Homo sapiens: one gene and its partners. The protein of the gene in region 6 purifies or fractionates together with the protein of the main gene of each other region. This does not show direct contact. Each region holds a gene or a part of one and is shown on either strand. Other genes may lie near its edges.

Region 1 (4,137 bases), on a different chromosome or scaffold from region 6:
GAATAGAAAAAGGCAGTAAAACAAGCCATGCCTTTAAAAATGGGAGGATTAACATGAATGGAGAAAAGGAAACACGTTCTGGATGAGGGAACCTGAGTGAGCAAAGGTATCATGAGCTTGATGAGTTTGGGAGATAACTGTGAGTAGGCCAGTATGACTGAAGTAGGTGGAGAACAATGGGATTCAAAATCAGTAAATTCGATTTGGACCAGATTATAGATTTTGTTACCAGGCAGAGACTTTTAGACTCTTTCCTTTAGGGAAAAGAGAATCAGCCTAATGAAAACAGCAAAGCCCATTTCATTTTTGTGTCCAAATTAAGGGCTTAATAACATTTTTATGTTCTTTGTGAGTATGTTTTAATGTGTATATAATTGCTTGTTTTTACATGGTTTGGGATTTGTGACAAGTCAAAAAAGGAAAAAATCCTAAATGTTAAATTTTGTGTCCCAAACTCCCAAACTTTTACTGGAGAGTTCCCTAAGATCCTCTGTTTAGAACCCAGTATTATCATTTTTTTAGAAACTATGTGTCTTTCAAGCAGGCACGGTGGCTCCTGTCTGTAATCCCAGCACTTTGGGAGACAGAAGGATTGCCTGAGGCCAGGAATTCTAGACCAACCTGGGCAACATAGTGAGACCTCATCTCTACAAAAAATATAAAAATTAGCCTGGCATGGTGTCACATACCTGCAGTTTCAGCTACTTGGGAGATTGAGGCGAGAGGATTGCTTGAGCCCAGGAGTTCAAGGCTGGAGTGAGCTGTGTTTGTGCCACTGTACTCCAACCTGGGTGACAGAGTGAGACCCTGTCTTAAAAGAAAAAAAAAAATTCTTCTGAGGGGTAACTACCACAGACTGGTTTTAAAATATTAAGCATCTGGCCAGACGCAGTGGCTCACATCTATAATCCCAGCACTTTGGGAGGTTTGAGGCGGGCAAATCACTTGAGGCCAGGAGTTCGAGACCAGCCTGGCCAACATGGTGAAACCCCATCTCTACTAAAGGAAAAAAAAAATTAGCTGGGTGTGGTGGCATGCACCTGTAATCCTAGCTATGCTGATGGGAGAATCTCTTGAACCCAAGAGGCAGAGGCTGCAATGAGCCAAGGTCACACTACTGCACTCTAGCCTGGGTGACAGAGTAAGACTGCCTCAAAAAATATAAACTAATTAAATTAAATATTAAGTATCATTGTCTTATGAAAACAATCAAGAAATTTAAATATAATTTGAAGAGTATAACCTTTCAAGCACAGTTAAAATTAGATACTATCTCAGTTCAATAACACTGACCTCAACTGAGAAAGTAAACATTGAGCACAAGCCTGACCAAAATAAAATAGGTTTATCTCCTGTTGAAATCAGGAATCTGCTTATTTGTTATTATTGCCTTTGGTAAGAGTTTTGATATAGATTATTAACTCATGAACAGTGTTTTAATTGACTTGCTAATGTATAAAACTTTTCATTTATTAGAATCGTTTCTTAAGTTACCTGTAAGGGGAGTAAGCCAATTACTGCTTTTGACTCCTAGTGGTCTTTTCATTTCTCATCTATTTAATTTGTGGATAATGTTTTTCAACCATCCTCTCTTTCTTGGAAAGCTTTCTCCTAGTAATGCCATTTATTGAATACTTACTACTTACTGTGAAAGAAAAGCTTTTCATCATATTTCTCATGTCACTGTGGTAAAAATTGGCAAGAAGTATTATCCATTGGAAATATGGCAATACATTTTCACTTATTTGTTTAATCACCAAAAATTTTATTGAATGACTCATATGTCATAGAAAGAGAGAACAAAAACAATTGTCCCTGCTTTTGAGGTCAATTTATGGTTTAGTGGCATAGGGATGGTTGGAGATGCTGGGAGTAGAAGCCAGAAAGTCAGCAGACCATTTCAGAACAATGTGATATGTGTATAAGTGTGTTCTGAGTAGGAAGGAAACACAGAGGAAAAGCACGTAAATCAGATGGGTGGTGGGAAGGAGCAGTAGGAGAGGGAAGAAGAGATGTTGGGAAAGACTTACAGGAGGTGATAACTCTTTTTTTTGTTGTTTGTTTGTTTGAGATAGAATCTCATTCTGTCACCCAGGCTGCAAAGCAGTGGCGTGATCTTGGCTCACTGCAACCTCCACCTCCCGGATTCAAGCGATTCTGCTTCCTCAGCCTCCCAAGTAGCTGGTATTACATGCACCTGCCACCATCCCCGGCTAATTTTTGTATTTTTGTAGAGACGGGGTTTCACCATGTTGGCCAGGCTGGTCTTGAATTCCTGACCTCAGGTGATCCAACTGCCTTGGCCTCCCAAAGTGCTGGGATTACAGGTGTGAGCCACTGCGCCCCGCCAGGAGGTAATAACTCTTAACTGGAATAAGAGTGAGTTAGTCTGTAAAGAGACAGGTTCTAGGAAAAAAGAACATCAACTGGATGTTCCTAATAATTTCAGTGATGTGCAACTGGAATAACCACAGATGTCTGAAAGCATCCCATCTCCTTTTAATGAACTCCAGTGTTTTAAAACTGAAGTATGAGAGCTGAACATCCAGTTACATGCTTTATTGTTTAAGTTTTCTAAAATTGTGAAATACAGTGTATCCAGAAAATTGTATAAAGCACATATATACAGTTTAACAAGTAGTTTGAAAGCCAACAGTCATGTAATCACCAATAGAACAATATCAGCATCCTGGAAGGCTTCTCTTATGCCTGCCCCTAATCACATGCTGCCCACTTCCCTGTAGTTTTGACATGTATGTATATCCCTAAACAATATATTTTAGTTTTGCCTGTTTTTAAACTCTATTTTATTGGGTTAATATTTTAATGTATTCTTTTGATCAATATAATGTTTGTGAGATTTGTCCATGTTGTTGCATATAGTTTAATCCAGTTCATCCTGATTAATATTTCATTACATGAATATACCACTATTCATTCTATGGGTTAATGCACATTCAAGAGTTCATTATGAACAGTGCTGCTAAAATTCTCCTGGTACTTGTCAGTTATCTTTTTTCAAACAATCTACTGTTATCCACTATACGTATGGGAATTATACGTATGAAATTCATATGTATTTTTAATTATAAAGTATGTTAATGCTACGCTTTTTCAAGCTGCTGATGATCCTCCATCAAGTATAGTTCATCTTTATTAGCAATAGGAGATTAGAAGTAAAAGCTTCTTTAAAGCTGGTAAAAAAAATTCACTAATCAAAAAGTTTTTTTTTGTTTTTTTTTTGAGACAGAGTTTCGCTCTTGTTACCTAAGCTAGAGTGTAGTGGCACGATCTTGGCTCACCGCAACCTCTGCCTCCCGCGTTCAATTCTCCTGTGTCAGCCTCCCAAGTAGCTGGGATTACAGGCATGCACCACCACGCCCGGCTAATTTTTTGTATTTTTAGTAGAAACGGGGTTTTACCACGTTAGCCAGGCTGGTGTCGAACTCCTGACCTCAGGTGATCCGCCTGCCTCGACCTCCCAAAGTGCTGGGATTACAGATGTGAGCCACCACGCCCAGCCCAAAAAGGTTTTTAAAATCAGTCACAGTCAGTCAGTGTCCAACTTGTTGATTATTGGCTATGAATGAAGAAAATTGGCCGCCTTAAAAAGTGACTCAATCCTAAAGCATTTTATTATAATTAAAATATTAATAGCAGGCCGAGCAAAGAACAAGACCTTGTCTTAAAAAAAAAAATTAAAAGTCTAATTTAAGTTACTACCTGGTCTTTCCTTTTAGTTTCCTAATCGCGCAAAATGAACAATAAGTCTCCCAGTAGCTACTGCGATTGTGAATAGGGCAACTGTATCAGAAGGGCTTGTTTGTCAGGTTTTTTTCTTTAAACATAAGCTGTTAAAAAAATTAACTTTTGTTTTTTATTATATCCAGGCATATTAACCCCAAATAACTATTTACTATTGGTATAAAAGGAAATAAACTGGAAGACCAAAGACCTGTTTTAATAGTAGGAAAATATAGCTTAAGCTATTTCATTAAGATCTTCTCCCTAATTCTTCCAATCCCCAAATGCACACAGTACTCTCCCAAAATATAAAATATCTAGTATTGATATTGAGACAAAGCTGCCCACTTGAATTTGGGATTTTGGCTGTAACCACTGTGCCTATAAACTTGC
Region 2 (4,137 bases), on a different chromosome or scaffold from region 6:
AGTCCTGGGGCTGGTGAGGGAGGGTTACTGGAAGAGGAATGCAAGAGAAGAAAAGAAAGGGAAGGTGATGACAGAAAACATTACCAACATTCAATGAGTAAAGAAAAGAGGAAAAGTAAGGGAAACTATAAAAGCTCCCAGACTGTAAAGATAATACATCTCTTGTTCACTTCTGAGTCCTCTGCACCTGGCATAGTACTAGGTACTCATATATCTCTATAATAGACAAAAAAATGCAATAAATATATTTAAGAAATCAAGGTATGGTCGGAAAGACAGGAGGAAAATAAGAAATAGTGGCAAAAGGCCAAGCATGGTGGCTCAAGCCTGTAACCCCAGCACTTTGAGAGGCTGAGACAGGAGGATAACTTGAGCCCAGGAGTTTGAGAATGGCCTGGGCAACATAGGGAGACCCCGTCTCTCCAAAAAATAAAAACTTAGCCAGGCATGGTGGCATGCACCTGTAGTCCCAGCTACTGAGGCGAGAGGATCACTCGAGCCCCAGAGGTCGAGGCTAGTAAGCCATGATGACACCACTGCATTCAGACTGGGTGACAAAGAGAGACCCGATTTCAAAAAAAAAAAAGGCAAGAAAACAGTGACAAGAGAGATTTAAAAATGTGGTCAGCAGCACCCAATGCTTCATGGAGGTCAACTTGGATAAGGGGTAAAGTACATCTTAATCCATCCACTGGATTAGAATATGGATTACTAGTAATTTCTACAAGTAATTTCTACAAGTTACTAGTAATTTCAACAAGGGGCATTTAAGTGGCTTGGTGGAATCAGGAGCAAGATTACAATGAACTTAATAGCGAACAGGAAGACACAGCATGAATGTGGACTGTCCACTGTCAGAGAAAGGCACAACTTGAGTGAAAGCCATAAGATGAAAGACTGACCTGAGACTGGATGAAGGATACTTCATTTATAAAGTAGATGCAAAAGAGGTCAAGATGGGCATAGATGTATAGAAGTTTAGATGAAAAAGTAGGCAAAGCAAAGGTGCTCATAGGCAATAGCTTTCTATTTACCTCGTGAATTTATGCATGACCAAATTAACAAGTACCCATGTTACCTGGCAAGATGGAGTTAAATACACATAGGACCAGAACACGAGCGCTGAAGGGCTCCTGTTTGATATTCCGAAACAAGGGGGCACAAAGCCTTTCAAAGATGTAGTACACATAGAAAAAGCAACCAAAGACCTGGAACATAACAGAGACAGAATTATAATAACGATGGCTTAATAAGATGGAAGGCGATTTTTTTCTCTCCAAAAGAAAGTACAGATGTGACCCTTACAGTAATGTTCGCATATGTATTCCATTTAACACTAGTATAGAAGACTGCTATAATCCTTCAGGGAGATTACTCAAGCCTAGTTTCTACCATCACTTTTCCTAACCCTTTACCAAATGATATTTTTAGAAGAGCTTACTCTTGGAACCTGTTTTCCTGCTGCTTAAAACCCGTAACATGGCCGGGCACAGTGGCTCACGCTTGTAATCCCAGCACTTTGGGAGGCTGAGGCGGGTGGATGACTTGAGGTCAGAGTTCGAGACCAGCCTGGCCAACATGGTGAAACCCCATCTGTACTAAAAATACAAAAATTAGCCAGGCGCAGTGGTGGGCACCTGTAATCCCAGCTACTCAGGAGGCTGATGCAGGAGAATCGTTTGAACACAGGAGGTAGAGGTTGCAGTGAGCCAAGACTGCATCACTGCACTCCAGCATCGGTAACAGAGCAGGACTCCTTCTCAAAAAAAAAAAAAAAAAAAAAAAAAAAAAAAAAAAAAAACCCCTTAATGAAAGAACTTACTTCATAAATGGGCATTTGATTGAGACACTAATTTAAAATGGGATCTTCCAGGATTAATGATTCTGATGGAGGTGGGAGGAGGAATGGGTAAGAGTCAGACTATACCCACATACATATATACCTCCCCCAAAAACAGGAAGGAAGGGGGAAATTAATGCTTACTGAAATAACCAATTAGAATTACTTTATAAATAATACATTCTTTTTTTTTTTAGATGGAGTCTTGCTCTGTCGCCCAGGCTGGAGTGCAGAGGAGTGATCTCAGCTCACTGTAACCTCCATATCCCAGGTTCAAGCAATTCTCCTGCCTCAGCCTCCTGAGTAGCTGAGATTACAGGTACGTGCCTCCACGCCAGGCTAATTTTTGTATTTTTAGTAGAGATGGGGTTTCACCATGTTGGCCAGGCTGGTCTTGAACTCCTGACCTCGCGATCTGCCCACCTAGGCCTCCCAAAGTGCTGGGATTACAGGCGCAAGCCACTGCGCCCAGCCTAATATATTCTTTTATTAAAGAAAATTACTTTTGATGTTGGCAAAACAAACACCATTTACCGTACTGGAAATAGTTTAAAAGACTGCATAATGTCAACAGAAAGCATTCTTAGCTCCCAATTAGATTTAACTAGATTATATTATTATCATAAATATGAATCCCCATCCCCTAATCAACATACCTTAGGCAGTTACAAAAACTTACCTGTGCAAACTTCATAGCGACATAACCCCATCTTACAGTGGGATTCCTGAAAAAGAAAGAAACAAAAATAAGGTTTCTAAATAAAGTAATTGAACTTGAATAAAGACCCTCACAATTAATGTTTTTTGGTCAGGCGCGGTGGCTCACACCTGTAATCCAAGCACTTTGGAAGGCAGTGACCAGGAGTTCGAGACCAGCCTGGCCAATATGGTGAAACCCCGTCTCTAATAAAAATACAAAAAAACCAACCGGGCGTGGTGGCACACACCTGTAATGCCAGCTACTTGGGATGCTGAGGCAGGAGAATCACTTGAACCCAGGAGGCAGAGGTTGCAGGGAGCCGACATAGCACCACTGCACTCCTGGGTGACAGAGCAAGACTCCCATCTCAGAAAAAACTAAAATTAATTAATTAATAAAAAATAAATTAAAAATAATAAAAATAAATAAAAATTAATTAATTCAGAACATCATTTATGACCATATGAAATACTTTATAATTCTGTCAAGAATTACTATAATCAAATTAGACTTCCCTACTCACCATTTGAGGCTTCTCAGGTCAGACAGAAAATGAAAACTCATTCTATATTTTCTATGTCCCTACATGAACTGGCCCCTGTTTACCTATCCCACCTCACTCATGCCACACTTTTGGTGTTTACCACATTTCTGGTTCACAGTACCATTACCTGGGATAGCTGTCACGGTAGATAAGGGTAGGAGCAAATAAGAAGTACAAATACTGGTTGACTGTAGGTATTGGAACAGTGCCTAGAAAAGGAAAACTATAGTTAGAGCAAAGGCTCTTTGATTTTTCACAGCAAAAATACAGGGGGGAATATAAGGAAGCACAGAACAGGGAAGAATAAAATGACTTATCAGCTCATGTTCTTTTTTCCTGATCTCCGGAATGACTTCTTATTCTTGCACGAATTGAATATTACCAATCTCTTTAAACCAAGTTATTCCTGTGACTGAGATAACTTCTAGAGTGTGAAGCAACAATTTGCAAAGAATAGGCAGGCACAGGTGTAATGAGGCTATTAACATTCCATAAAAATAATGCAAAGTTGCAAAAGATAATCAATTTTTTAAAATTGTAGGTTCAAGGGCAAAGCCGGAATAGTCAGGAAACAATGAAGTGGTCCTCAAAATCAATATGGATAATATATATTTGAAATAAAACACAATCTCTACATTATATAATGTGACATCCCAGAAAACAACAAAGGGTGAAATATCCAGCCAATAATCCTTTAAACTAATGAAATTACACAAAGAAAAGAAAAGAAAAAGAGAGAGAGAGAGAAAGAGAAAGAGAAAAAGAGAGAGGGAGGGAGGGAAGGAAAGAAGGAAAGAAGGGAAGGGAAGGGAAGGGAATGGGGTGGGGGGAGAGGAGGGGAGGGGAGGAAGAAATAATGAACAAAAGAAATTACATACTTGATTTCTCCTTAGCTGAATTTAGTACCCGAGGCACGTTCTCTCTGACAAATGAGTGGGCCTTCATTACAAAACGAATCTACAAAAGCAGGAGGAAAAAGATGTCTCTTCAAAGAAAGTCTCCTGCAAGTGTCCTTTCCATTAGTCAAATGCATTATAGATAGCCAGTAAAGTC
Region 3 (4,137 bases), on a different chromosome or scaffold from region 6:
TGAGAATACTGGGGGTCCTCCTGCCCCTACCCAGTGTCCTGCTCATAGGGCAGAGGTGGTCACTCTGCTTAATAAGTGTGTCACTGTCCCCATCCTCAGGGCAAAACCTCATGGATTTTTTCCCCCGGGGGAGAGGAAGTCCATAAGAACAAAGTGCTCCAAAGTTCTTCCCTAAGGAACTGACTTTATTTAAAATAGAATGTAGAGAAGTTCAGAGTTTAGAGAAGTTCCAGCCTCTTGAAAATAATGGAGATTTTGGTAGTAAGCAATTAAGAGGAGGCTGGTAACTCCAGGAGGGCAACAGCTAAACTGTAGGCCAGCTAATTTACTAGAGAGAACCACAGAGAGAGATAGTAAGAATATACCTCCTGGGGTCTGAACAAATCTCAAAGACTTGCTGCAAAAACTATCCCTGCAAAAGGGCCCAATTTAGTAGGGACAGATTATGGAGCAATTTATGCCCCAGAGCATTGTCAAAAACAAGACAGCAATTAGTGAACAGTCAGTGGAGTCTAATAGGAGTGATACCAATGGAGGCATGGAAAGAGATAAAGAGAGCCCTGCTAAATCCAATGCCATCCTAGGATAACTGCACAGGCCCTGAGGAGCAACAGCAGAGGCTTCATATTGCCAAAAGGTCGGGGAAGGAGGAAGAAATAATTTGTTAAAATAGTCCAGCCATGTCAATAAATAAATAAACAAGGAAAAAAAAAAACCAAGCCGTGGTGGTAGAGGGAAATCAGTATCCAGAGTTGCCACAGTGTATTACCTAAAATGTCTAGTTTTCGAAAAAGAAATAATGAGGAATGCAAAGAAACAAGAAGATGTGACATACGCTTAAAAAAAAAAAAAAAACCGGCAAGCAACAAAAACTGCCTGTGTTAGGGCCCAGACATTAGCTTTAATACACAAAAATTCCAAAGCAGCCATTGTAAGTATGTTCAAAGAATTAAAAGAAGTCACACTTAAGGAAGTAACAGAAGATGACAATGTTTCATCACATAGAGTATTAATAAAGAAATTATATATATATCAAAAGAACCACATAGAAATTCTGAAGTTAAAAACTATAGTAACTGAAATAAAAATTCATTAGAGTAGCTCAACAGTAGATCTAACAGAAAAAACAATCAGAGAACTTGGATAGATCAATAGAAATTATGCAATCTGAAGAACAGAGGGAGAAAAGAATGAAGAGAAATAAACAGAGCCTAAGAAAAATGTGGGATACCATTAAATGTACCAACATACATACAGTGAGTGTCAAAGGAGAAAACTATGAGAATGGAGCAGAAAAAGTATTCAAAGAAATACAGTCAGCCCTCCATATGCATGAGTTCCACATCCCATAGAATCAACCAACATGGTTCAAAAATATTAGGGAAAAAAACGATAAAAAATAACAATAAATATAAAAATTTAAATACAATATAACAACTATTTACATAGTATTTACATTGTATTAGGGTTTTTTTTTTTTTTTTTTGATGGAGTCTCACTCTGTTGCCCAGGCTGGAGTGCAGTGGTGCAATCTCGGCTCACTGCAAACTCCGCCTCCCAGGTTCATGCCATTCTCCTGCCTCAGCCTCCCAAGTAGCTGGGACTACAGGCGCCTGCCACCACGCCTGGCTAATTTTTGTATTTTTAGTAGAGACAGGGTTTTACCTTGTTAGCCAGGATGATCTTGATCTCCTGACCTCGTGATCTGCCCGCCTCGGCCTCCCAAAGTGCTGGGATTACAGGCGTGAGCCACCGTGCCTGGCCTGTATTAGGTATTATAAGCAATCTAGAGATGGTTTAAAGTATATGGGCAGATATGCACAGGTAATATGAAAATATGTATATTTACATAAGGGACTTGATCGACCATGGATTTTGGTTCCACATGGTATCCTGGATCCAATCCCATGCAGGTACTGAGAGATGACTATAATGGCTGAAACTTCCCAAATTTGATGAAAAACATTAATGTACATATTCAAGAAGCCCAAGAAACTCCATAACCCAATTAAAATGGGCAAAGGATCTGAACAGACATTTCACTAAAGATATACAAATGGCCAATAAACACATCAAGAGATGCTCAACAACATTAATCATAAGAAAAATTATAATCAGAGTCACAATCAATACCACATCCACTATCATGGGTGATACTAGAAACAAAAAGATAATAACATGTATTAATGAGGATGTGGGGAAACTGGAACTCCTAAACACTGCTGGTGGGAATGTAAAATGATGCAGCCACTTTGGAAAACGGTGTGGCAATTTCTCAAAAGGTCAAACACAGGATTACCATATGACCCAGCCAGAGTCCTGGGCATATGTCCAAGAGAATTGAAAATCTATGTCCACCCAAAAAGTTAAACACAAATGTTCACAGCAGCAGTATTTATAATAGCCAAAAAGTAGAAACAACTCAAATGCATATAAACTGACAAATGGAGAAACAAAATGTGGTATAACCACACAATAGAACATTTTTTGGCTATAAAAAGGAATGAAGTACCTAACATGTCACAACATGGATGAACTTTGAAAACATTATGTGAGTGAAAGAAGCCAGTCATAAAAGGCCACATATTGTACAATTTGCTTTCTATTAAATTCCCAGAAGAGGCAAATCTATAGGAAGTAGACCAGTAGATGCCTAAGTTTGGGGGGAAAGAGGGTTGGTAGGATGTGAGGAGTGATTGTTAATGGGTATGGGATTTCTTTTTGGGGTGAAATGCTCTAAATTTGATGGTGGTGATAGCTACATGACCTGGTTAACCGTACACTTTAAATTAATAAATTTTATGATATGTAAACTATATCTCAATAAAATTGTCATAAAAAAGAGATAAGGAACTCAAAGCATTCAAGATACTGAAAAAATGTACACAAATCTATTTTTGAGGAATAGTGAAATGCTGCTTGCTTAACTAAGCAAGAAATCAAGGAAAAGAGCATCAGTTTAATTTAACGCCCCTTTTATTGTTATTTCCTGATTTTCCATTATTCAAGTGTTACAATGATAAGGAGACAAGGTGGGGGGATTTCCAAAACAAAAGGCTGGTTATAAAAACGAATGTGATATGGACCTAGAATGTATATAAAATATATTCTATGACTTCTATGCTGTAGAAAGGTAGCTAGCCCTAAATGAATCAGAAGACATGGAATCAGGTTTCAGCCTGCTTTATTAAACTATTCTTTGACACTTTATATTTTGCTGGGTAAGACTGAAGCTAGGGGCTGGGCATGGTGGCTCACGCCTGCAATCCCAGCACTTTGGGAGGCCAAGGTGGGCAGATTGCTTGAACCCAGGAGTTCAAGACCAGCCTAGGCAATATAATGAAGCTCCGCCTCTACAAAACAAACAAAAAAATTAACTGGGTGTGGTGGTGCACGCCTGTGGTCACAGCTACTTGGGGATTGAGGTAGGAGGATCGCTTGAGCCTGGGAGGCAGAGGCTGCAGTGAGCCAAGATTGTGCCACTGCTCTTCAGCCTGGACAACAGAGCATGCAGGATAGTTAGAACAAATTATTCATGGGCCATCTTTAGGCTTAGGGGAATGCATGACTAAGGTGTGATTCCAAGACGCGCTAGAAAGAGCAGGTCTTCTTTCATTTGTATTAAATACTGGGATTTTGTGTAACAGTTCACTAGACAAGTAAAGGAGGTTTCATCTCAAAAAAATGTGAAAGTCCTTGGTCTAGATAACCAAGATTACTCCCAGCTGTAACAACCCATGGGCACAACAGTAAAGTTATAGAGAAAGCTTTTGTAAGACTACTCTAAACACCTGCAACTATGGGTAACAAGTTAAACAGATATTTTTAAAAACAGGTGTTTTGATTTTAAAGGAACAAGTAAATATTATACTTTATTTTTATGACCATTTTTTTCCTATTCAAAACATTAATTATAAACTTATTTTGCCTTTTGTATATCCAGTTTCTCTTTTTAGCTAACCTTAGACACTCATACTTTAGTAGGAAAACACTCAAATCTGAGACCTTTTAGCAAAATACCATTAAGTCTGGAGTAAATAAAGTCCTATCCTTAAATGTAAAGTATACTTACCAATGGTCAGGAAATCTGAACGATACTGACAAGTCATTCCAAAGCCAAAATCTCGCCAAAAGCCA
Region 4 (4,137 bases), on a different chromosome or scaffold from region 6:
TCTTTTGAGATGGAGTTCCACTCTTGTCGCCCAGGCTGGAGTGCAGTGGCGCAATCTTGGCTCACTGCAACCTCCGCCTCTCAGGTTCAAGTGATTCTCCTGCCTCAGCCTCCCGAGTAGCTGGGATTACAGGTGCTCGCCACCATGTCTGGCTAATTTTTATATTTTTAATAGAGACAGGGGTTCACCATGTTGGCCAGGCTTGTCTTGAACTCCTGACCTCAGGTGATCCATCCACCTCGGCTTCCCAAAGTACTGGGATTACAGGTGTGAGCCACCGCACCCAGCCTTCAAAATACAATTCTAAAACGTAATTCAAATGCTCCATACAAGAACTCTCAGGTAGTCCAAAATTAACAAATATCAAATATTAGTATAACTTATGAGATGAGTTAGTGAATATTTTGACCATATTGTAAAAGAATCCCAAAGCACTAAAAAGTAATTTCAACAGTATAAAATCTTGTTGAAAAGGTATAATAAGCAGACCAGGCGTGGTGGCTCACACCTGTAATCCCAGAACTTTGGGAGGCCAAGGCGGGAAGATTGCTTGAGGCCAGGAGTTCGAGACTAGGCAACATAGTGAGACCACGTCTCTACAAAAAAAAATTTTTTTTTTTAATTAGCTGGGCATGATAGGGTGCGCCTATAGTCCCAGCTATTCAGGAGACTGAGGAGGGAGGATTGCTTGAGTTCAGGAGGTCGAGGTTGCAATGAGCCATGATCACACCACCACACTCCAGTCTGGAAGACAAAGCTAGGCCCTGTCTCAAAAGAAAAAAAGTACAATCAAATAGTTTAATGAACTTCAAAAGTAATTTCTGAGATCCTGTATATCTCATACCTGTGTTTAAACACCTGAAAAAAATAGATAAAAATTCAAAACTTCAAAAAATATGAAGGAAATATCATTTGTCTTAGAAACAACGAAAATTCATTAAAAACTCAGAAGCCTTTATTATATTTTAAATTACTAAAACTCAGCACATCTGGAAATTCTGAATACTTGTTGACTGAATTTCTGATTTACAGATTTGATATGTAGAGATGGTGGACATCACCACACGTATAGAAAGGAAAACAATTTTTGTTAAGTTATACATCTTCATCACTATTATACTTCAAAGTAGTGACCTTGGGAACCTTATTCCAAAAATGGAAAACATCTTTGGAGCCTGTGTAAAAGCCACACAAAAGTCAGTTCTATCATTTTGGTTAATCTTAAGTATTTTACCCCATTACATATTATTTACCTCAAGTACCTACTTATTTTTCAAGACATAGAGTTAAGTTACTGTATTACAGTTCTTGTCTACAAGCATTAGAAACATTAGTAACTGACTCTGGCTATCTTTAAAAAGCAACTTTACTGGAAGGCTGTTGAAACTCACAACACTGAAAGATGACTGGAAAATCAGACTGGAAAAAAACAGTGCCAACAGACCAGAGAAAGCAGCTCAAAGAACCATGCCAAAGAACAGTCTGATCCACACGCTGACATGACTCTGGAAAGGTCTCCAAAAAACCCTACAGCTCGTTATTCTCTCAAGATCCAAAGCCCTGAAAGAAAACATATGATTGGACAAGTCTGGCTGCATGACAAAACAGCAGGGGAATAATATGCTTCAAGAGTGCATCCTAGAGCCGGTCGCAGTAATCCCAACACTTTGGGAGGCTGAGGCGGGAGGATCACTTGAGGCCAGGAGTTCGAGGCTGCAGTGAGCTATGATCTCGCCACTGTACTCTAGCCTGGCGACACAGCACAATCTGTCTTAAAACAAAAACCAAAAAACACAACAACAAAAAAAAAAACAGGTGCGGTGGCTCATGCCTCTAATACCTGCACTTTGGGAGACTGAAGCGGGAGGATCACTTGATCCCAGGAGTTCAAGACCAGCCTGAGCCATGTGGTGAAATCCCTGTCTTTATAAAAAAAAAATTTTTTTTTAATTAGCTGGGCATGGTGGTGTGTGCCTGTGGTCCTAGCTCCTCGGGAAGCTGAGGCAGGAGGATCACTTTAGCCCAAGAGGTTGAGGCTGCAGTGAGCCAAGATCGCACCACTGCACTCCAGCCTGGGTGACAAAGAAAGACCCTGTCTCAAAAACAGGCAACACACTATGGGGAAACCCTAAAGTAATACAAAATAAAGCGAAGACCTGGGGAGGAGTTAATAAACATCCACAGCAGTACAATCAGAACCATCATATGGAATGACTACTTTTCCATTATACATGAAAACACTGAAGCTCAGAAGGCTTAAATTATATGTAAAAGCCAAAGAATACACTTTGGACAGGACTATAGAGCCTCTCTCTGCTTCTGCTGTTCCATAGGCATACTCCAAATTATACTTGGCCACTGAAAATAATTAAATCTAACCTTAAAAGACTAAGATTTGCCACCAATGAAGACATTCAAACATATATGACACCAGTTATTTGTGGTAATTCTCAATAAAGCATCCTGAAAATATTCTATGGAAAGCATCTATAGAATAAACACACACAGGGAAAGGAAAATACCTGGCACTTTTGCTGTCCCTCCCCCTCAAACACTGGGTCAATTAAAGAAATACTGCTAATTACTTGGCAGTTGAATTTAGGTGTAAACTATCTGCCATCCTTACTGTGGTCTTTAAAGAGTTACTTAAATACTTATGCACTGATTCTCTGCCCAAGTGAGCATGAAAATCTTCTGAGGGGACTAGCCATCCCTGTTTTATAAAAGCAAAAAACAAATATCATTGGTTAAAAAAAAAAAATCTGAAATGTGTAAAGAAAAAAAAAAAAATCAATCACAATGACTTTAGACTCACTCCTAACAGGTAATCTGAAGCCAGACCATCTGCTTATTCAAAAACTGAACCTTCTGTTCAGCAAAAAAGAGAGGGAGACTTGACTCAGAATATGTCAAAGTAATTTTTTAAATATTATAGATTATAAACATGTTAAAAATAAATTGGTAAGACAATAAGAACAAAGGACAATCTCACACGATATGGATGAATCTCACATTGAACAAAAAGCAGACACAAAGTACAAAAAACTAGGCAAAATTAATCTATGCTGAATTCTAATATTAAGCCAGTGGTTACCCCTGAGGAATGGGTAGTGACTGGAAAGATACTCAAGTGGAGGGCTAGGGCTTCTGTTTCTTGCTCTAGGTACTGGTTTAACAAGTATATTCACATAAGGTTATTAGCTCACATATATAAAATATTTCCAACATTAATGATTTGCTTAAATGTAAAGTTTAGCTTTTAAAGTTCTTAGGAGAATCCAGACATTAAAAAGATAAATGCTGAAGTAAAAATCAGTTAAAGCAATGAGTTAGCATAAACGCCTGGGCTCAGGGTAAGACAGCAATTCCTGCCTCCTAAAAAGAGTACTATAGGTTAAAAACATGGTGGCGAGCCTCCCAAGGGAAAAACATACCAACAGATAAGTTGACAGGGCTGGTTATTAGAGTGTAAAGACATGATGAGTTGGCTTGATGGCATGCACCTTGTATTCCCAGCTACTCAGGGCGGATCACTTGAGCCCAGGAGTTTGAGTGCAGCCTGGGCAACATCTTGAGACCTCCATCTCTTAAAAAAAAAAATTTTAAAGATGTGATGAAAGGAAAAAATATATAGGCTAATCCCTAAAACCAAAACCTAAAGCAATACAAAATCCCAGTAGTCTCAACCCCACCCCTCAACTCTCTGGACTTGCCTAAAAAAAAAGAGAAAAAATTTCCCCATGTGGTTGCTGAAATCAGGAAGAAATGCTCACAATAAGCTAGCAAGCATCTGGACCTTAGCCATGACTAGCAAAGTATAATGAGTGACTCTTGATGCAAAATAAACAGAACACATGGTTTCAATTACCCGCCAAATAACTTTAAATTGTTTAAATTATGTGAGTATGGTTAAACTTCAACAAATTATTTAGATTATCTTCTTAAGACCCAATCACCGAAAAACAGCATGTTAATATGCTTCACCTTAAACATTTAGAGCAAGGGTGTCCAACCTTTTGGCTTCCCTGGGCCACACTGGAAGAACTGTCTTGGGCCATATATAAAATACACTAACACTAGCAATAGCTGATGAGCTTTAAAAAAAAAAAATTGCAAAAAAAATTTCATAATGTTTTA
Region 5 (4,137 bases), on a different chromosome or scaffold from region 6:
GAATTTATTACTTTTGAAAATGTTAATTAAAGAAAGGGAGACGCAAAGAAAGGGAGGCTCTTCCTGAAATCCACACAGGGGGGTGCGGCTCAGACGGGTGACAGACCCCCGCTGTTCCCAGTAGGGCAGCACCCCCAAACCCAGGGGGCCAAGGGAGGGGCTCCCAGATGAAACAGAGGCTGGTTGCTGATTTCTTGGGGGAACTTTTGTAAAAATGAAGACACTGAATCCTTGAGCTGAATCCCAGGTGCAGAGACTGGGGGGAGGTGGAGAATCCAAAATCATGCTCAGGTTTCTCCTGAAAAGTGTGTATTTTCTAAAAAATAAATATAAACTCCTGGTTTGAGAAACTCCCTCATGATGAATGGGAGGAAAATCATGGCAAATGGAGAGCTAAGAAACCATCTTCGCATAGACTTTGCCCAAGGTGTAGAGGAAGATCTGCCGGTCAGGCAGGATGAAGACCCACACAGGAGCCTGTGTCCTCCAGGTCGTCCCTTCTTCCAAAAGCACAGCAAAGCAATACAACTTGAGGACTCCCTCCAAGATTTCCTAATTTTTGATTTTACATTTAATCTCAGGAGGCTATACCATTAAGAAACATTATTAGAGTTATTGCTGGGTGCTGGGCCCCAGACGATACTAAGTGAGGCAGAAGCTTTCAATAATTCCTACAGCCCTCAGCACCAAGAAGAACTTGGAGGGAATATTGGGCTTGTTGAGAAAGTGGGAAAGAAATTAGAATTTCTCCCAATAGAAGAGGCAGATCACCTTGGCCTACTCTCTAGGACACAGGTCTTTCTTCTGTGCTACACCAACACTACAGAATACAAACTCATACATATACATTTGCTACCATAGGTTCTACAACAGCCCCATGCCCTCCAGGCAGAAGGTGGAGGCAGGTGGCCGCTGATTCTGAGGATCCCTGTGTGAACAGTGCCGTTAGCCCTGAGGGGAGCTGGCGCTTGCCCAGGCTGTGCCAACTGGGATTTCTAAGCTCCTTTTTCCCTCACCACCATGCTGAAACCTTTTTTTGCCTCACATATATCAACTATACTTAAATGGTACAGAAAGAACCAATATTTGAAAAGTTACAGTAAATCACTGAAGCAGAAAGATAAAACTATACCCCAAGGATCCAAATGAGGTTTAGGGACATAAAACAATTGGCAAGAACCAAATCAAAAGTTGGCTATGCCACAGCTTTGGCAGAAACTTTCCTGGAGATGATGAGGGGTTGAGGTGAGTTGCTATGTGCTTTATTTTGGAGCCAGATAAAATATTCTGGAAATCATTTCAGAAGGTCCTATGAAACAGGCATTTAAAAAAAAAAAAAAAAGAAGAAGACACACTTTGGTATTGAAACCGAGCGCTCACTGGCAGGTGTCGCAAAGATTAAGGCTTCAGGTGAGAACGCAGTGATGGCAACATGGAGATGGCGCCATACCGGGCTTGAGGCTCTGCTCAGACGCCTCCTGCAGGCTCACACGGCTCAGGGGCCACTGGGCAGGACAGCCTCTGAGTGCAGCAGCTTCCCTAGGGGAGGTGGACCACGTTGTACCACTGGGCAGCCTTGGTGTCTGCACCAGCTCCAAGAGATACTGCTGCTCTGACACCACGCAGGTCTCCATGGGCACTGCTGAGTTGACCGCAAACTCCACTCTTCCACTTCTGGTGGTGGTCAGGGCTGGGGAAGGTCCGTCATGACGCAACCTGGCTAGCCCTTGGGATAAAGAATGCCCACTGCTCCCATCAGTCCCATGCTGGAAGACTCTAACACAACTAAGCAGAAGAGCCCTGACCTCCAGCCACATCTGCCGTCTGCCCTGACTCCTGTAGGTGCCCAGTCCGGGGAACAACCAACAGGTCACATAAGCAACAAGAACTTCCAAGAGGAAATGGATATAAAACCAAGGAAAGTGGTAGCCCCATTGTTGATAATCTAGATACAAAATAATGAAAAGCTAGTACAAAACTCTTTAAACATGCAACTCTTTTTAAACAACAATCCATACTCTGAATATGTATCAGAGCAGGTTAAAGACTACACTGCTACATACCCGCAGTCTGTTCCCTGGAAATGGCGTGAGGGTGGAGGCTGGCACATGATGTGAGAGACATGGCTTCTGCCAGAGAAGCCCCGGACAGCTGCGAGCGCTGGCTGAGAACGTCGCTGGGGGCCAGTCTTTCCGGGGTCACAGCCAGCATGCTGATGTCATGGCTGATAACATCACCCTCAATCACCCACCAAAAGGAACCCATACGGTAAAAAGCGGAGGGGGGAGGGGGAATAATGGAGAAGGAGATGGAAATCACTTATATGATTTTTGTGACATGGTTGAAACACATCCTTTGAGGAGGGGGAAAGTTGGGTGGAGCTGGGAACAGAAGTTTTATTTACAAGATCTCCTGAATTATTAACAGACCTTAAAAATTCCAAATGGAAAACTTCTGTTATCAAATCACTGAAAATAGCATATATATCTGGTTCTACCAAAAAAGAAAAAAATCTGGCAATATTGACCAGTTTCCAAATGATTAAGAAAAGAGTGTCAAGAAACCAGTAAAATACATAGGAAAAGGTGGCCCTTTTTATCCTCCTCCACCACACCACTTTGGAAAACATTTTAGGGTTCTTCATTGTATTTTTCTAATACATTTTACCAATTGTCCAGAAAATCAAATCCCGTCTTCAAGACGACATTACTTGAGCTGACCTGTAGAAGGGACAAAAACATGGAAGTAAGACGAGCCTCTTTTTTTCAGTTACGTATAATCTAAAAACAGCATCTCATTTAAAACGACCCAGATAAAAGAGCCTACTTCTGTCTCAGAGGTTCCCTGACCTCAATTTATCTCAGTGCTTGAAATCAGAAGATTAAATACAGTTCAATGCAATCTATACTCTGCCAGCATCCAACACTAACCCCTCTTCAACCCCAGGCATGTCTGTGAGCAGCTTACAGACCTTACAGAGAAAAGAACAATGTCTCTGTATTTTTCTATAAATCTTTTCTGTTTCTGAATGACAGCCATGTTTAAATTTATTCATCCTAAATAAGAGAACAAATGATAAAGATATTCCTTCAAATATAAAACAAACATCACACACAAACACAACAAAAAAGAACTTGTAAAGTTGAGAAAGTAAACATAGTGTGGAAAGAATGTGAAGCTTATTTCTTTCAGATCTTGTGAAAGGTTATGAAGTGATTTTCCCAAACTCTAAGCTCAGCCTCCGGGGCTCAAGCGATCCTCTTGCCTCGGCCTCCCACGTAGCTGGGACTACAGGCATGCACCAGGCGTGCACCACAAGGCCTGGTTTAATGTCATTCTTCTTTCAGGGGAAAGGGCTTAACTGACAGGTCCCCTCTTGTGAGCATGGGCTGTCTCAAGCTGCTGCTGTTTTCATAAAACTTCTGACTGGCTTCCACTCAGCAGCCTGTTTCTGATGTCCCTTTCCTCCAGCCTAACACCGGCAGGCATTTACCTGGTGCGCCAAGGTCTTCTTGAGCAAAGAAACCTTGACTCTCCACCCTCCAAGCAGCCGGCCAGCAGAAAATGCATACATGGCGGCAAGAGCAGGCAATGGGCTAATGGGCTTGCCCTTGACACCTGTCTCAGGCCCAGTTTGGCTACATGTGAGACTGGTGCAGAGTGAGGCAAAACATGCAGAATGGAAGGAGTGCAATCCAGTTTTCCTTGTTCTGGTTTCCTTCCAGTTTCTTAAATGCAGTGGCATTTCACTGTGCTTTACTCAGAAATCTGTTCTCTCAAAGGAATTTCATGTGCTGTCTCCTACTCTCCACTGCCCACACAGAAACACGTTCCTGCTTCTCTTTAGAGTGGGGACTATCACCTATTTTATGGAAATACTTCTTTCAGAGGAAGCCCTCAGTGCCGAGTCTCAGAGAAAGAGTGCTGGTTAGGGAGGCAGGGAACTGAGCCTGTCTGTAAGGAGGAGCTGATGGGCAGGAGGATGTGAGACAGAAAACAGAACGGAGAGATGGGCAGGTACCGGAGAAGGCAGGAAACAAGAGGGCTGAAAGCACTAGCTTAAGAAGGTGCAGAAACACGAAGAGGACAGGCTAGAGCACTGATGTGGAGCCGAGGTGGGCAGAAGGTACTAGCACC
Region 6 (4,137 bases):
GTATATTCCTGTGTAGCATCAAGTGGGTCAATCCAGACAGTAACACTTTCTGCTGGTACCTCTTTAGGAGTAGTTACTTCCTTTAGGATATCCTCAGGAATCTTATGATCCCACAAGATAACCTCCTGATCAGCTGCATCCACGTGTTCCTCAGTATTAATCTGCATTAAAAACAGGTGACAGTTAAAAAAAGTAAGACGAACAATCACTATTTGATAAACTACAAAAGTATTTCAGACAACAATCACCCAAATTATAAATAAGTAAATCCCTATTTTTATTTCTTTTGATGCTCCATATTGCAAAATGAAAATGAAAATGAAAAAAAAAAATCCATGACATCAGGTCTTTAAATGCTTCCCAATCTAATATTCAAGCCTGGTTTGTTGACTAATCAAGACAGATAATTCGGATATAGAGAAATATAGAGAAACTGAGCATTGAAGAAACAAGCTACTTAAACCTTAACAATGCTTTATGAAAGATAATAGCTCTAAAGTGTGAAAATAGACAATATTCTGGAACACAACACAAGCAACTAGAGTTAGAAGAAAGACGTATCATAGAATAGGGAGGTACAGTCAAATTTTCTACCTTTTTTTTTTTAACTAAGGAACAAAATTAAAAGATAAAATAAATTTAACTTACCATACAGATATGTAAGGATGTGGGGTAAGGAGAGAAATATAAGTAGAGGAAGGGTTGTTACGAGAATAGAGGAATATATTCTCTCCTTAAGGAATATATTCTCTCCTTACCCCACACCCTTACATACATACATATACACACACACACACACACACACACACACACACAAACCCCCCTTACACATATATATTCTCTCTGTATAATATATATTATATATTATTTCTACATATAACATATATATACATGTGTTTGTATAATACTTTATGTAAGTATTCTATTCATTTACAAACACATTACAGATTCCTTTAAATTGAGATTGCTCAATTTGGCACGACTGACAATTTGGACTGTATAATTCCTTGTTGTGGGGCTGTCCTGTGCATTGTAGGATGTTTAACAGCATCCCTGGCTGAATGCCACTAGAACGCACCAGATGCCAGCAACAACACCCTCAGGTGTGACAAACAAAAATGTCTCCGGACATTGTCAAGTGCGCCCCTGTCCCATCCTATGTAAAAAACACTGTTTTCAACAGTGTGCTTCTTAATGCATCCTAAAATTAGTCTAATTTGTAAAACAGTGTTTTAAAAATAATGTTTTGGCCAAGTGTGGTGGCTCACGCCTGTAATCCCAGCACTTCGGGAGGCCGAGGCGGCTGGATCACGAGGTCAAGAGATCAAGGCCATCCTGGCCGACATGGTAAAACCCCATCTCTACTAAAAATACAAAAATTAGCCAGGCATGGTGGTGCGTGCCTGTAGTTCCAACCACTCGGGAGGCTGAGGCAGGAGAATCACTTGAACCCTGGAGGTGGAGGTTGCAGTGAGCCAAGATCACGCCACTGCACTCCAGCCTGGCGACAGAGCAAGACTCCATCTCAAAAAAAACAAAAAATAAATAATAATAAAAAAATGTTTTAGAACTGCATTTACTTTTGTAAACTGGCATATACCAATTGACTAAATCTAAGAATTGAGTGTTCTTTAAGAATTAAGTTAATAACAGATCATCAATCTTATATGAATACTGCCTCACCATGAGACTTCTATCACATCATCATACACACACACAAGAAAAAATGTCCCCAAAATTTTGATTTTAGTTAGGGACTTACACTCTCAGCAGGACAGGCTGTTGGGTCCTGTGCTTTCTGACAAGCTCCCTTTCCAGAGTAGGTCATGTTTATGCTACATGTGATGCCATGCCTAGACCCCACGCTACAGTGCCAAAGCGATTACAGCACTGACAATACATGAGTATTGTCAATACAACATCTCTCACCTATAGTCTTCAGAAAGTTGCAGAGACACAGACATGATTTTAAAAAATATAACTATCACCAATCTCCAGAAGGTACCCTGAAACACCCCAAATTATCACAGGAGAGGTTAAAAATACTAATATTCTAGAAACATCAAACCGCTTAAATCATTAAATATCTCTTTTTTTTTTTTTTTTGAGACGGAGTCTCGCTCTGTCACCAGGTTGGAGTGCAGTGGTGTAATCTCGGCTCACTGCAACTTCCACTTTCCGGGTTCGAGTGATTCTCCTGCCTCAGCCTCCGAGTAGCTGGCACTACAGGCACCCACCACCACACCCAGCTAATTTTTGTATTTTTAGTAGAGACGAGATTTCACCGTGTTGGCCAGGATGGTCTCGATCTCCTGACTTCATGATCTGCCCGCCTCGGCCTCCCAAAGTACTGGGATTACAGGCATGAGCCACCGCGCCTGGTAAATCTTTAAATATTTCTCAGTACAGAGCAAAGTAAACATTCAATTTATTCACTTATGTCTTTATTAATTCAGCAAATGCTTATTGATTGCCTACTATATGACAGACACAGTTACAGGTCTTAAAGATACCACAGTGATCAATGTGAGACAAAAATTTCTGCCCTGTGGAACTTAGATTCTAGTATAGATAAACAACGAGACACATGAAAAAACATGTAGTATGCTGGATAGTGATAAGGAGGAAAAAATAAAGACCAAAAGGACAGAAAGAGTGTTGTTGGAGAGTAGAGAAAGGACTGTTAGAGAGTAGTGGAAGGGTTATTCTTTAAGAAAAAGGGGTAGATAGTATTAAGAAAGGGTGGCTAGGCAATTATTCATAATGGCTAAAATCAGAAAACTACTAATTCCATCAATTAGTAGTTTATCCATTACCCTGATGAATGGATAAATATATTTGGTATATCCATACAATGGAAAGTTACTCAGCCATATATACGAATAAAGTATTGATCATGCTAAATCATGGATGAACCCCCTTGCTTTGTGAAAGCATCAACATACAAGAGATCATATACTGTTTGATTCCATTAATGTAAAATGTCCGGAAAGGCAAATCTATAGAGAAAGACCGATTAGTGGTTGCCTGGGATAAGGGATAAAAACAAGAATAAACAGTTAATGGGGTCAGGGGTATTATTAGGGTGGTGAAAATGTTCTAAAACTGATTAATGATGATAGTTGTACAATTTGGCAGTTCTAAAAATTACTGAATTGTATACTTGAAATAGACAAATTGTAAGATATAAAAACTATGCTGCAATGAAGTTGTTTTGAAAAAAAAGTAATGTAGCTAGAGAAGCCCCTCACTGAAAAGGTGGTATTTGACTGAAGAGATCTAAAGAAAATAAGCCTGGCAGGCATCTAGAAGTGCATTCTAGCCCAATAAATAACAAATGAAAAGATCCTAAGGTGGGAATGTGCCTGGTGTGTTCAGAGGGCAGCAAGGAGGCCAGCAAGGCTACAGCAGAGTGAGCCAAGGAGAAAGGCTAAGGAGCTGAGGTCAGAGAGTAATGGAAGCCAGATGGTGAAGGACCTCGCAGGCTGCAACACAGAGCCAGTTGCCCTCCATCATAACAGCTATTAACAATGTGCAGAGGGTCCTAGTCATTGCAGTAAGCTAAAGGGAGGGGGAGAGGAGCAAGTGGGGAGGTACAAAGTTTAGAAAGAAAAACCAATCCATAATATGAAGTTGATTATTGAGCACTGAGAAAATCTAAAAGAGCTTGCAGATAAATGCAACTCCAATCAAAATCCCCAGTGTTTTTTGTTGTTGTTGGTTTTTTTTAACCTTCTCCTTGGAAACTGGACAAGGCATTTCTGAAAATTACATGGTAGAACAAAAAGTCAAGAAGCAACACAACATTTTGGGAAGAGGGGAAAAAAAATACCATCATGGTGTGGTGACTTACCTTACCAGATATCAAGACCAGAATAATTAAGACAGTGTGGCACTGGTGAGGCATTTTGGCTTCAGAAACCACTCTTAACAACAATGCCAGACTACCTCAGATGAATGAAGATAACAGTAACACCATGCAAAAAGGAATAAACTTCAAAAAAAAAAGAAACATGACTCCTAGAAAAGACGAAGTAGCTTATGGGCCTTAACCACTGTAGCTTACAAAACGGCAGTGCCAAGTCTGGCAACTACTGAGCTTCACTGATTTTTTGCACAATTCAAGTCAGCTTCTCC
Region 7 (4,137 bases), on a different chromosome or scaffold from region 6:
GCACCCATTAACTCGTCATTTAGCATTAGGTATATCTCCTAAAGCTATCCCTCCCCGCTCCCCCCACCCCACAACAGTCCCCAGAGTGTGATGTTCCCCTTCCTGTGTCCATGTGTTCTCATTGTTCAATTCCCACCTATGAGTGAGAACATGCAGTGTTTGGTTTTTTGTTCTTGCGATAGTTTACTGTGAATGATGATTTCCAATTTCATCCATGTCCCTACAAAGGACATGAGCTCATCATTTTTTATGGCTGCATAGTATTCCATGGTGTATATGTGCCACATTTTCTTAATCCAGTCTATCATTGTTGGACATTTGGCTTGGTTCCAAGTCTTTGCTATTGTGAATAGTGCCGCGATAAACATACGTGTGCATATGTCTTTATAGCAGCATGATTTATAGTCCTTTGGGTATATACCCAGTAATGGGATGGCTGGGTCAAATGGTATTTCTAGTTCTAGATCCCTGAGGAATCGCCACACTGACTTCCACAAGGGTTGAACTAGTTTACAGTCCCACCAACAGTGTAAAAGTGTTCCTATTTCTCCACATCCTCTCCAGCACCTGTTGTCTCCTGACTTTTTAATGATTGCCATTCTAACTGGTGTGAGATGGTATCTCATTGTGGTTTTGATTTGCGTTTCTCTGATGGCCAGTGATGGTGAGCATTTTTTCATGTGTTTTTTGGCTGCATAAATGTCTTCTTTTGAGAAGTGTCTGTTCATGTCCTTTGCCCACTTTTTGATGGGGTTGTTTTTTTCTTGTAAATTTGTTTGAGTTCATTGTAGATTCTGGATATTAGCCCTTTGTCAGATGAGTAGGTTGCGAAAATTTTCTCCCATTTTGTAGGTTGCCTGTTCACTCTGATGGTAGTTTCTTTTGCTGTGCAGAAGCTCTTTAGTTGAATTAGATCCCATTTGTCAATTTTGGCTTTTGTTGCCATTGCTTTTGGTGTTTTAGACATGAAGTCCTTGCCCATGCCTATGTCCTGAATGGTAATGCCTAGGTTTTCTTCTAGGGTTTTCATGGTTTTAGGTATATTAATTTCTTTAAAACTAATCATTTTCTACCACCACATCTACTCCTCAACACATCTCTGCTTCTATGCTTATTAAATCCCATTCTTCACTGACCTCTCTCTGCTGCCCCTGTTTTTAATAAGCACAGCCATTAAAAAGAATAATGTAGATCTATATATACTGGCTTGGAAAGGAATCCACAATAAATAGAATAATACAGTCTTATACACCAAGTACCTATGTGTGTGTTTGTATATGAATAGACAAAAGGCTAGAATAGTGCTATTTAATAGAATTATAATGCACCTCACAATATAATTTTAAGTTTTCTAGTAGCTGCATTTAAAAAGAAAAAAAACAAGTGAGTATCAATAAATTTCATTTTACTCAATATATCCAAATTATTTCAACATGTGATCAATATTTTAGAAATCAAGATATCGTACATCTTCTTCCTAAGTCTTTAAAATCCAATATATAGCTTATGCATACAGCATATCTTAATTTGGACCAGTCACTTTCAGGTACCTAACAGCCATATATGGCTACTGGTTGTCATATTGGACAGTACAGATCTAAAAGGCTACACACCCAACTGTTAAGAATGGTTTCCTTTGGAGAGAGGGACTGGCTAGGTAGAGAATAAGAAATGAGGAAATTTAACTTCTAATTTTATCTTTTATTACATTTGCAATGAATATTTCTATTTTATCATAAAAACAATAAAAACTGACTCCAACTACAGACCCTCCAGCATTATTCTAGGTGCCCCACTAATAGAACTATCTTTTCCTCTGATATCAAGTCTAATTTCTCTGCCTCAATGATTCTGTTATTACTCAAAAACCCTCTCCTTTGTGACCCCAATCCCTCACTGGTAATCTTTCACTCTTCACAGCTCTACAGTATCTCACATTTAATCTCTACACTATCCAAACTCCTGTAGCCACTACTCAAAGGCTACAGGTGAGTTAACCACTTACTCATGTTTCATGATGTTCAACTGCGGGAGGGTCTGATTTGGGACCACAAAACTCATTCTCGCACAAATGTCCTTATAATCTTGATTCCTTCTCTCAAAGTCCTCCACGTGTGCAGCCAGATGGGAATTGACAATGCAAAAGGTGGTGTTGTGAAATACAAATCTCACAGCTACCCCACCTTTGTTTCCCTGTTAGCAAGAGTAATTATTCAATTAGTACACAGAACAAGCAACTGAACTTTACATGAACATGAATAATAATCAAGCTCATTTCCAAAGTAACTCACCATTTTCCCCATGATTCCAGTTCCAACTGTTTCTGTAGCAATATCACGAATGTATCGACACTGATCCTTTCTGGCAAATATAAGAAGCATCATCCCAACAAGGCGCACCAGTTGAACCTATGAGTTCCGGGGAGTTACAAAAGGTTAATGTTAATACCAATCTTTGCCACATTTCTAATGTCCCACGACTAATTTTCCATCAAGATGATATACTAGTGCCCAAATCTGACTTCATATCCTCTAATTTCTCAGTGGACCCCGTCAAGTGGAAACTAATATTCTCTGGGGAGGCTCTAATCTGGCACTGACCAATAAGAGTTAAAAGCTGGGAGGGACAATGAGTACTTTCAGCTCTAGATCTATTCTTTTAATCACTTCTTAGCCTACCAGGAGTAAGCAGCATTAAAAGTTCAAATAATAAAGCCACTATCCCAGCTTGTTCCTTCCACCTTTCCTTCCTAGTTTCTGATGTCTAATTTTCTAAGAAATTGAAATCAACCAAACAGCAATCTTTTTTACTTATTTTTAACTTGTGAACTACAGCTAGAAATATGTCTGAGATATACATTAGTCAGGGACCTATATGAGAGGAATAACATCCCCAGGAGTTTTATTACCTATATAAACTGTTAGAAGATGTAGAGAAAAATTACTCACATTACTTCTTTTAGAGACCTTAGTATGATAGCCCTGTAATTAACTCTTCTGGTAGCTAAATGCCTTTACCACATACCTTCTAAAGACAAACAAATTGGCCCATCTTGCTAAAGTCAACTCTCCTCTTAACTTAAAACCAAGTTTAGAACTCGTTCAAATTCCACACCACTTCTATTCTTGCTCTGATTGCAACACATGCACCATGCGCCCACGTTTCATATTGCTTTTCTGTAAAGCATTCAATTCTGACCATGTCAGTGAGTAATCTAAATCTTATATGTAATTATTTCAAACTAAGTATTGATATAAGCATAATAAAATTCTTTTTTCCCCTAAAAGCTATCTAAGCAATGAAAATATAGTATCAGAAAGCTTAGGGATTTTTTTTTCTAGGAAATAAGGATGAATGATCAATCTGCCCTATCCCAGTATTACACACAGAGAAGAATTCAATTAAACTATTCTTTTGGAACAAGTTGTAGATAATGGAATAACTCCCGGTGAGCCCTATTTAGTCATACACTTAAAAAGATAATTAAATGCGGCTTACTTTCTTATACTTGGCTTTGGAATGCAAACCTCTCTCTACAGCCATGGACCATTCTTGTTCCTTCACAGATTCAAAGTAGAAGAAGGCTTCTGTGCTCAAGTCCAGTTCTTGGAATCTGAGGAAAAAAGGGATATGAGATCTATACATATCCCATAATTATCTCTGGCTACCTCCTGTCCCATATGTTGAAACATTAGATGAAAAAAAGATGGGAGAGAGATAAATTTTATAGAACTGCTCTGTTCACCCAGGTTATCAGTAAGAACAAGTAGCTTTCTTTTCTAAAGAATTCCCACAAGTACATTCATAAGCTATGCAAAAAATAAATCAAAATACCTCCCACAGAGGATAACAGCAGAGCTTTGCTCTTATATCCTAGGAACTGTCACTGTTAGAACTGACCCCAAGTCTTAGTTTCTATGCAGAATATATAGATTCCTACGGGTTTCAAGAAAATTAGATGCTTCCTTACACCATTTTAGGTATCTGTTCATTTCTGTTCTCACAAATTTGACCCGCAAGTTAACTCTCGTGTATAGTCTACAGTAGGTTTTACCAACAGTCTTTTTTAAAAAAGGCAAAACATCATGTAAATGAACACCAAACATATAGCCAAAAGGAAATTCCAGAAGTGTTCTT

The links.
Region 1: the proteins of BPNT2 (region 6) and GOLPH3L purify together in Homo sapiens (affinity purification with mass spectrometry; one large-scale study listed by BioGRID and IntAct). This does not show direct contact.
Region 2: the proteins of BPNT2 (region 6) and SOAT1 purify together in Homo sapiens (affinity purification with mass spectrometry; one large-scale study listed by BioGRID and IntAct). This does not show direct contact.
Region 3: the proteins of BPNT2 (region 6) and CSGALNACT2 purify together in Homo sapiens (affinity purification with mass spectrometry; one large-scale study listed by BioGRID and IntAct). This does not show direct contact.
Region 4: the proteins of BPNT2 (region 6) and GOLPH3 purify together in Homo sapiens (affinity purification with mass spectrometry; one large-scale study listed by BioGRID and IntAct). This does not show direct contact.
Region 5: the proteins of BPNT2 (region 6) and C1orf198 purify together in Homo sapiens (affinity purification with mass spectrometry; one large-scale study listed by BioGRID and IntAct). This does not show direct contact.
Region 7: the proteins of BPNT2 (region 6) and OCRL purify together in Homo sapiens (affinity purification with mass spectrometry; one large-scale study listed by BioGRID and IntAct). This does not show direct contact.

What each region holds. Positions count from the first base shown.
Region 1 is NC_000001.11:150,686,682-150,690,818, reverse strand, and holds part of GOLPH3L (Golgi phosphoprotein 3-like), read left to right. Parts: intron 1-4,137. UniProt on the Homo sapiens protein: Phosphatidylinositol-4-phosphate-binding protein that may antagonize the action of GOLPH3 which is required for the process of vesicle budding at the Golgi and anterograde transport to the plasma membrane.
Region 2 is NC_000001.11:179,342,018-179,346,154, reverse strand, and holds part of SOAT1 (sterol O-acyltransferase 1), read right to left. Parts: exon of another isoform or gene 4,042-4,137; coding exon 3,963-4,041; intron 3,294-3,962; coding exon 3,212-3,293; intron 2,566-3,211; coding exon 2,520-2,565; intron 1,209-2,519; coding exon 1,079-1,208; intron 1-1,078.
Region 3 is NC_000010.11:43,175,968-43,180,104, reverse strand, and holds part of CSGALNACT2 (chondroitin sulfate N-acetylgalactosaminyltransferase 2), read right to left. Parts: coding exon 4,073-4,137; intron 1-4,072. UniProt on the Homo sapiens protein: Transfers 1,4-N-acetylgalactosamine (GalNAc) from UDP-GalNAc to the non-reducing end of glucuronic acid (GlcUA). Required for addition of the first GalNAc to the core tetrasaccharide linker and for elongation of chondroitin chains.
Region 4 is NC_000005.10:32,167,183-32,171,319, forward strand, and holds part of GOLPH3 (Golgi phosphoprotein 3), read right to left. Parts: intron 1-4,137. UniProt on the Homo sapiens protein: Phosphatidylinositol-4-phosphate-binding protein that links Golgi membranes to the cytoskeleton and may participate in the tensile force required for vesicle budding from the Golgi.
Region 5 is NC_000001.11:230,837,189-230,841,325, forward strand, and holds part of C1orf198 (uncharacterized protein C1orf198), read right to left. Parts: intron 2,721-4,137; coding exon 2,664-2,720; 3' UTR 1-2,663.
Region 6 is NC_000008.11:56,980,037-56,984,173, forward strand, and holds part of BPNT2 (Golgi-resident adenosine 3',5'-bisphosphate 3'-phosphatase), read right to left. Parts: intron 162-4,137; coding exon 1-161. UniProt on the Homo sapiens protein: Exhibits 3'-nucleotidase activity toward adenosine 3',5'-bisphosphate (PAP), namely hydrolyzes adenosine 3',5'-bisphosphate into adenosine 5'-monophosphate (AMP) and a phosphate.
Region 7 is NC_000023.11:129,560,655-129,564,791, reverse strand, and holds part of OCRL (inositol polyphosphate 5-phosphatase OCRL), read right to left. Parts: intron 3,614-4,137; coding exon 3,499-3,613; intron 2,409-3,498; coding exon 2,292-2,408; intron 2,194-2,291; coding exon 2,006-2,193; intron 1-2,005. UniProt on the Homo sapiens protein: Catalyzes the hydrolysis of the 5-position phosphate of phosphatidylinositol 4,5-bisphosphate (PtdIns(4,5)P2) and phosphatidylinositol-3,4,5-bisphosphate (PtdIns(3,4,5)P3), with the greatest catalytic activity towards PtdIns(4,5)P2.